Regions from separate parts of the Homo sapiens genome. Here all the other regions are linked to region 3. The links come from fine-mapping of genetic effects on gene expression. A gene starts in region 3. Each other region holds a variant in brackets. All regions are shown on one strand. Distances are between the middles of the regions.

Region 1 (2,761 bases), 110 kb before region 3:
ATTGACCGCTGTTGAGTTGAACTATGTTCTTACTAATTTTCTGCATGCCAAATCTGTCTTTCTGATAAAGGAGCATTGAAGTCTCCAAATACAATAGTGGATTCATCTCTTTCTCCCTGCAGTTCCATCAGTTTTTGCCTCACATATTTTGATGCTCTATTATGTGTATATACATTAAAGATTATTGTCTTATTGGAGGATTGATCTGCGGTCATAATGTAATGCTCTTTAACCCTGATAACTTTCCTTGCTCTGTAGTCTACTCTGTGTAGAAATATAGCTACTCCCACTTTCTTTAATTAGTGTTAGTATGGTGGATCTTTTTTCATCTCTTTATGTTTAATCTATATGTGTCTTTATACTTAAAGTTGGTTTCTGGTAGACAACATATATTTGGGTCTTATTCTTTGATAAACTCTCACAATCTCTGCCTTTTAAATGATGTAACTGACAAAACCACTGACATTTAAAGTGATTATTGACATAGCTGGATTAATAGCTACCATATTCGTTAATTTTTTTTCATTTGTTACCCTTGTTCTTTGCTCCTCTTTTTGTCTTCCACAGTTCTTCTGCCCACTGTGGTTAACTGAGCATTTTATATGATTCTATTTTCTCTCCCTTCATAGCTTATCAACTATGCTTCTTTTTTTAAAAAAACTTTTTTTAGTGGTTGCCCTAGAGTTTACAGTATACATTTCCAATGAATCCAAGTCCACTTTCAAATAACACTATATCACTCCACAGGCATTGCAAGTATCATATAATAACAAAATACTCCTGATTCTTCCCTCTCTTCCCTTACACTGTTGCTGTCATTCATTTCACTTATAACTAAAAATACATAAACACATATTTATGTTCATTTATATACATAATGTATTGGTATATAAAAGCATACATAATAAAATACATTGTTGCTATGATTATTTTGAACAAACTTTTATCTGTTAGGTCAATTAGGAATAAGAAAAATAATGCTTTTCTTTTACCTTCACTTATTCTTTTTCCAATGTTGTTCTTTTATGTAGATCAGAGTTTCTGACTCATATCATTTTCTTTCTCTCCGAAAAACTTTTTACATTTCTTGCAAGGCAGGTCTACCAGCAACAAATTCCTCCAATTTCATTTATTTATTTTTGGTCTGAGAAAGTCTCTATTTCTCCTTTGCTTTTGAAGGATAATTGTGCAGGGTACAGAATTCCAGGTTGGTGGGTTTTTTT[T/C]CCTCTCTCAACGCTTTAAATATTTCACACCATTCTCTTCTCATTTGCATAATTTCTGAGAAGTCAGATGTAATTTTTTTTTTTTTGGAGAGAGAGCTTGGCTCTTGTCTCCCAGGCTGGGATGCAATGTCACGATCTCGGCTCACTGCAGCCTCCACCTCCTGGATTCAAGCAATTCTCCTGCCTCAGCCTCCAGAGTAGCTGGGATTACAGGTGCATGCCACCATACCCAGTTAATTTTTGTATTATTAGTAGAGACAGGGTTTCACCATGTTTGGCCAGGCTGGTCTCAAACTCCTGATCTCAGGTGATCCACCCACCTCAGCCTCCCAAAGTGCTGGGATTTACAGGCATGAGCAACCATGCCCAACCTAGATGTAATTCTTATCTCTCCTCCTCTATAGGTAGCATTTTTCCTCTCTGGTTTTTTTCTAGATCTTTTTCTTTATCTTTGATTTTCTGTAGTTTGACTATGAAATGTCTGTATAGTCTTTTTTCCCTTTATCCTGTGCTATGGTTTGAATGTTTTTGTCCCTTTTAAAATTCATGTTGAAACTGTATCCCCAATCCAATAGTATTAAGAGTTGTGACCTTTTGTAGGTGATTGAGTCATGAGTGCTCTGCCCTCATGAATGGGATTACATGCCCTTCCCCCTTTTTTTCACCCATTCTATCCCGTCTGCCACGTGAGGACACTTAGATGGCACCTTCTATAAGGAACAGGCCCTCACCAGACAGTGAACCTGCCAGTGCTTTGATCTTCTACTTCCTAGCCTCTGGAACTGTAAGACATTTCTGTTTTTTTATAAATTACACAGTCTACAGGACTAAGACATCCTGCTTGGTGTTCTCTGAACTTCCTTGTTCTGCGATTTGGTGTCTGAGATTAATTCTGGGGGAAATTCTCAACGTTATTCCTTAAAATATTGCTTCTATTCCTTTCTCTCTTCTTTCTGGCATTCCAATTATGTGTATGTTACATCTTTTGTAGTTATCTCACATTTCTTGGATATTTTGTTCCTGTTTTTTTCAGTCTTTTTTCTCTTTGCTTTTAAGTTTTGGAAGTTTCTACTGTCATATCCTCAAAGCTCAGAGATTCTCTCCTCTGCCATGTCCCGTCTACTGAGCCCATCAGAGGCATTCTTCATTTCTGTTGTATCACTTTTGATTTCTAGCATTTTGTTTTTCTTCTTAGATTTTTCATCTTTCTATTTACATTACCCATCAGTTCTTGCATGTTGTCTACTTTTCCATTAAAGTCCTTAGCATATTAATCATGATTTTTAAAAATTCTTGGTCTGATAAATCCAGCATTCCTGCCATATCAAACTCTGGTTCTGATGCTTCTTCAGTCTCTTCTGTGTATTTTCCCTTTTAGTATGACTTGTAATTTTTTAATCAAAAGGTGGACAGGATGCACTGGGTAAAAAGAACTGTGGCAAACAGGCCTTTAGTAACGTAGTGGTAAGGTGCTGGAGGAAGGGGAAGTGTTCTACAGTCCTATTAGGTCTCAGTTTTTTGGTGAGCCTGTGAACTAT
Region 2 (2,761 bases), 35 kb after region 3:
GCATTTCCATACGCCTGACAATTCCAGAATGTCATGTCAACTGAATGATATAACGGAACCCTTTGAGATTGGCTTTTCTTGCACATCCTAATTCTCTGGGGACGCATCCAGGGTACAGCTTGGGATCAGTAGTTCCTTCCTTTTTTGCTGCTGTCTCATACTCCATGGTACAGTGTTCCACAGTTTCTTTAATTATTCAGCCATGGGAAGAAACGGGGTGTTTCCAGTTTTGTGACTCTCGTGAGTAACATTCTGGTGCACATTTGTGGACAGTTTGTGTGTGAACATTAGTTTTCATTTCTCTGGCTCAAATTCAACTGCTGGGTCATATGGTACTTAGAAAATTATTACCATTTCCCCAGGCCTTTCCTGGAAAAAAAATATTTAAGATAAATATTCTGTAGAGACAGGCAGCAAAGGTGGACAACATTTTCTCTTTTTTTCATTGTTTCATTTTTAGTTGTAAGTGTATGTTTTTGGTAGGGAAATCAACCCAATGAAAGAGATAAAATACCTCTTTCCTCTCATTTTTCTGTCTCTTGCATCTCCCTTACCGCTCCTGTCTTTTTTGAACGCCTGTAGATTCACCAGACCAGAGCACTTGGGCAGCAGCGCCAAGATCAAGTGCAGCGGTTGCCATAGCTACCAGGAGTCCACAAAGCAGCTCACTATGAAGAAACTGCCCATCGTAGCCTGTTTTCATCTCAAAGTAAGTTTTCCAGAAAGCCAACTCTAATGGCAGACTTAGTTTTTAGTCCACAGTACGGTCCTCAGCCTTTTGGTTTGCTGTGCAGTTACATTTTTTATAATTGCAGCAAGCAGGAAGAACACCGAGGAAGGGAGGGTGTGAGGGAATTGTCCTCCCATCTGTGAATTGTCCTTTTGTCTGTGCTGCGGTAAACAAAATCAGTGGCTTCGCAGTGAAAGTAGAATGTGAGTTTTCTTGGGAGCAGAGTGGTTGTGAAGTTTTTATTACTTCTACCATTCCTCCAGCTACCCCCTCCTCAGGTTTTCTGTTTTATTTTAAGACAAAGGCCCTCAGCATGCAGATCTGGTC[C/T]AGGAGTTGGCAAGCTCTTTCTCTAAAGGCCCAGATAACTGAAGATGTCGAGCTCCACAGGCTGCGTGCGATCATACGATTCTCTGTTACATGTTCTTTGTTTCATTTCACCACCCTTTAAACATGGAAAACGCCCATTCCTAGCTTGCTGGCTGGAATGGGTGACTCCTGATCTAGGCAAAGGACTGTCTTCTGTCTGGTGAAAGGAACAATTTGTTCATTTTTGCTGCCATGGGCCACGGATCTTTGTTTTGTTTTCTGTGCTTTGCTGGGTTTGCTGTAAGATTACTTTTTGTACCCTTGGTGTTACCACTGAACAGTCCCATCATTTGAAGACTTGAACCCTGTAAATGAGGACTTGGGTGGATTGCCACTGTGTTTTTGAATCTGTAATTCTAGATGTAGCTACAAGGCAGTTCAATAAAATACAAAAGAGATAACACAGACACCTGTCATCAGAAGAAGGCCCTGAAGCTTCCAGTGACATTTCTGATCTTCTTTCCTCTTCCCTCTGTCCCCTTCCTATTTCTGCAGCGATTTGAACACTCAGCCAAGCTGCGGCGGAAGATCACCACGTATGTGTCCTTCCCCCTGGAGCTGGACATGACCCCTTTCATGGCCTCCAGGTATGTGGGGTTGTAGGCCCGTTCTGTGTCCTGAGGGGCTGTGATCCTATCAGGACAGGAATCCAGCTCGGAGCTCCTATTAAGATGACTGTTGGCCGGGTGCAGTGGCTCCCGCCTGTAATCCCAGCACTTCAGGAGGTCGAAGCGGGCAGATCATGAGGTCAACAGATTGAGACCATCATGGCCAACATGGTGAAACCCCGTCTCTACTAAAAATACAAAAATTAGCTGGGTGTGGTGGCAGGCACCTGTAGTCCCAGCTATTTGGGAGGCTGAGGCAGGAGAATCGCTTGAACCCAGGAGGTGGAGGTTGCAGTGAGCCAAGATCGCGCCACTGCACTCCAGCCTGGTGACAGAACGAGACTACGTCTAAAAAAAAAAAAAAAAATGACTGTCGATACTAATATAAACCCCACCTTCCCCAAATCTGTTTATCCTGATCTTAAGATACAGCACATGTTAATGAGTTGTTTTTCATCAGATACCCTGTTTTTGTTTTGAATTTCTCAACAATTATCAATCCACTTTCAAACCGGCAAAGTCCTCAAGGTGGGATCACAGCGAGAAGGCAACATTTTAGTTCGTGGAACAGATGTTGAAGTACAGGCAGACATAGTTGGTTTTGCAGTTGTAGATTGCATTTTCCTTTTCAAATCTGCCTATTCTGGGGTACTTGGAATTCAGCTGCTTACTAATGCATGAGACACATAGGAGTTTCCTGTGGTTCTGTGACAAATGACCAAAAACCTGGCGGCTTAAAATTAATTTCCTCACAGTTCTAGAGGTTGGAAATCTGAAATCAAGGTGTTGGCAGGGCTCCATGTCCTACAAGGGTCTTGGGGATTCCATTCCTCACCGCCTCCAGCTGCTGGTGGTTCCACGTGTTCCTTCTGTGGCTGTCACTCCCCTGGCTTCCGGGTCACATGGCCAGCTCCCCTGACTCTGTGTCCAGTTCCCTCTGCTTCTCTGTCATGACCGTGGTCATTGGCTTTAGGACCTAGGCAGATCATCCAGGAGGATCTCATCTCAACATCTTTACTTTGAGTCTCTGCAAAGACTGGTTTTACAAATGAGGTCC
Region 3 (2,761 bases):
CAGTTATTTGTATACCGATTAGACCTGTGCCGCCCACTGCGGTAGCAGCTAGTAGGAATTGGATGTGCTTTAAGTGTAAATACCAGATTTCCAAGACTTGCTGCAAAAACTGTAAAACATTCCACTAACGATTTTGCAATACTGCCTACATGCTGAAATAATTTGACTTTATTGGGTTGAGATATATTACTGTAACTTTCTTTTTTCATTAGAAAAATGTAGCCACTAGCAAATGTGAAGTGTCAGGCGTGTGGCGCGCAGATGCCTCTTTAAACTGGATGGCGCCGGGTTGGCCCTCACTATCAGCGGGCTCCCGACAGGAGGCGCCCCAGCTTGCGGCCGGGGGCAGCGCCTACCAGGCAGTTGGCAGGCAGTTCCAGCCCCGGGCCACGGCACTGCAGGGCCCGAGCCAGGTTACGGCAACCGGGGGCCCTGCAAACAGCTCCCGATTAGGGGGTGCTTTTGGGTGGGAAAGCGCAGGCCCTGGATGGAGGCCCGACCTGCGGCGCTCCAGCTCATCGCCCCGCCTCTTTGCGGCAGAGCTCAGGCCGGCGCAAACCGGTTCAGTGCTAGGACTGACGTCTCGCGCCGCCCAACCGCAGCACGCCCCCGCCTCCCCAGTCCTCTGGAAGAGACAGGGAACGTCTAGCCGCCAGGGTCCCGGGAGGCGGCTCTGTACCAGACGGACTATACTGAGAGCCTATGACAATAGCCGAAGGTGCCGGGGGGGGGGGGGGGGTGGCCTACTACCAATAAAGGAAGGGGAGGGGCGGGCCCTCGTTAGCTTCCCCCCCCTACCACGCTTCCTCGGGCGCGGGTCTACCCAGAGCCTAACGGGCGCGCGAGTGTGGGGGAAGGGCCTGGCGCGGGCTGGAGACTGCGCAGTGCGGTGCCGGCCGGGAGGGGGGGGGGGGGTGACGTAATCTCCGTCCGCGGCCGCGGCGCCCCGCCCCGCGACACCCTCCGCGAACCGCGAGAGCGCAGCGCAGGCGGTCCGCAGCAGCCGCAGCTCGGGGGCGGTGCCTGCCTTGCAGCCTCCCCTCGGCGATCGCGCAGCCCCATCTTTGTCCGGCCTCCGCGCTTTGTTCTCGGCGCCCGGGCCTTGGCCAGCCTGGCCAGCCGCCGAGCAGCCCCCACGCCGCGCTGGCGTCGTCCTCGCCTCCCTCGCCGCCGCCCCCCGCGCGCGGCCGGGCCTTGCCCCCCATGGTGTCCCGGCCAGAGCCCGAGGGCGAGGCCATGGACGCCGAGCTGGCGGTAGCGCCGCCGGGCTGCTCGCACCTGGGCAGCTTCAAGGTGGACAACTGGAAGCAGAACCTGCGGGCCATCTACCAGTGCTTCGTGTGGAGCGGCACGGCTGAGGCCCGCAAGCGCAAGGTGCGCCCGGCAGCCCACCGCGCGGCGGGCTCGGGGCCTTCTGCCGCTCCTGAGGCCGGCCGGCGGAGGGGCCCTTTTCCTGCCCTCTTCCCTTCCCCCGTTGCCTTTCCCTGTCCTTCCTCTTCCTCTCTCCTTCTGCCCTCTCTTCTCTTTACCCCTTCCCCCTCCTTTCCTTCCCCCCTCAACTCTCTCCCTTCCCTTATCTCCTCATCTTCCTATCCTTCCCCTCTCCCCCCTTCCCCCATTCTTCCTTTCCCTCCCCCTCCTCTCTGTCCCCTCCCCCTCCTCTCTGTCCCCTCCCCCTCCTTTCTCTCCGCCCTCCCCCTCCCTTATCCTTCTTGGCCCGGGAGGGGCGAGTGCTTCCGGGCCGGGGGTGGTGTTCTCCTGCCCTGCTGCCTGGGGAGCCTGGGACTTCGGTGGGCGGTCCCGGGCGTTCCTGCGCGAGGTCCTTGCGGGGAACTCTCCTGGTTCTGGAGGGTTCGGGGCTGGATGCGGGTGCAGAGAAAGAAATATTTCAAAAAAATGAGTAAAGGATGGGGGGCTGTCGAGTTCTGGGCGTTGGTCTGCAGCGGTCACCCGCCGCCAGGAGCGACCTTGGACGGGAGCTGGGGCAGGAGGCGGGCTGGGGGGCGCGGGGCCGGAGCTTCGCGGCTGCCTCGGGGCCCGCGAGGAGCTGGAGGTGGAGGGCGGCAGGGGCTGGGGCCGGGGCGAGCCTGTGGGTGCGGAGCCACAGCCCGGGTTTGCGTTGCGGCTGAGGAGTAGACTTGGAAGCGCGCCGTGGGCTGTGGGAGGCCTTAACCAGGAGTGAGTCCCCTCGGGGAGCCCAGTCTTGCGTCCCGCAGTTAGGCTTGGTAAGGGTTTGGAAATCAAAACGTAACGTGATTCTTCTATGTGAATAAAGTTTATTTTTACAGTTTCACGCGCTTTTGTAGATTACAATCCGAGATTGGGAGTTGTGAGGGCAGTTTCCACCTTGAGTGGCATTTTTTTATTTATGGGAATACCAACAGGCTCGCTGAGATTGTAGGGTATGTTAAGCAGTAATTCAAAAAAAAAATTATTTTTTTGAGACGAAGTCTCGCTTTGTACCCCAGGCTGGAGTGCAGTGGCGCGATTTCGGCTCACTACAATCTCCGCCTCCCGGGTTCAGCCGATTCTCCTGCCTCAGCCTCCTGAGTAGCTGGGATTACAGGCTCCTGCTACCACGCCCGGCTAATTTTTGTATTTTTAGTAGAGACGGGGTTTCACCATGTTGGCCAGGCTGGTCTGGAACTCCTGATCTCAGGTGATCCACCCGCCTCTGCCTCCCAAAGTGTTGGGATTACAGGCATGAGCCACCGTGCCCGGCCTCAAAATTTTTTTTATCTGTAATGGTATCAGGTAGCGT

Which allele goes with the higher level. Positions count from the first base shown, and alleles are read on the strand shown. Sizes are in standard deviations (SD) of each study's normalised expression. Not every link is listed here.
As copies of C replace T in region 2, the expression in aorta of the gene that starts at base 1,028 in region 3 goes up (small effect, 0.32 SD a copy in GTEx).

Evidence for each region. PIP is the estimated chance that this variant, and not a neighbour inherited with it, causes the effect.
Region 1: its variant is the best candidate, but not a certain one, in a credible set for the expression of USP22 in whole blood (INTERVAL, PIP 0.59).
Region 2: its variant is the best candidate, but not a certain one, in a credible set for the expression of USP22 in aorta (GTEx, PIP 0.55).

What each region holds. Positions count from the first base shown.
Region 1 is chr17:21,152,860-21,155,620 of GRCh38, reverse strand. The region is part of intron 1 of DHRS7B (dehydrogenase/reductase 7B); the gene reads right to left. Among named protein-coding and RNA genes, the nearest start is that of DHRS7B, 27 kb to the right of the region's middle. The variant T/C (reference allele first, on the strand shown) is at 1,224.
Region 2 is chr17:21,005,818-21,008,578 of GRCh38, reverse strand. It overlaps USP22 (ubiquitin specific peptidase 22), which reads left to right. Exons shown (of 13, transcript NM_015276.2): 9 at 583-709; 10 at 1,592-1,683. Among named protein-coding and RNA genes, the nearest start is that of USP22, 36 kb to the left of the region's middle. The variant C/T (reference allele first, on the strand shown) is at 1,058.
Region 3 is chr17:21,041,278-21,044,038 of GRCh38, reverse strand. It overlaps USP22 (ubiquitin specific peptidase 22), which reads left to right and starts at 1,028. Exons shown (of 13, transcript NM_015276.2): 1 at 1,028-1,374. The coding sequence starts at 1,204. RefSeq lists enhancers at 1-257, 258-1,207 and a silencer at 743-1,342.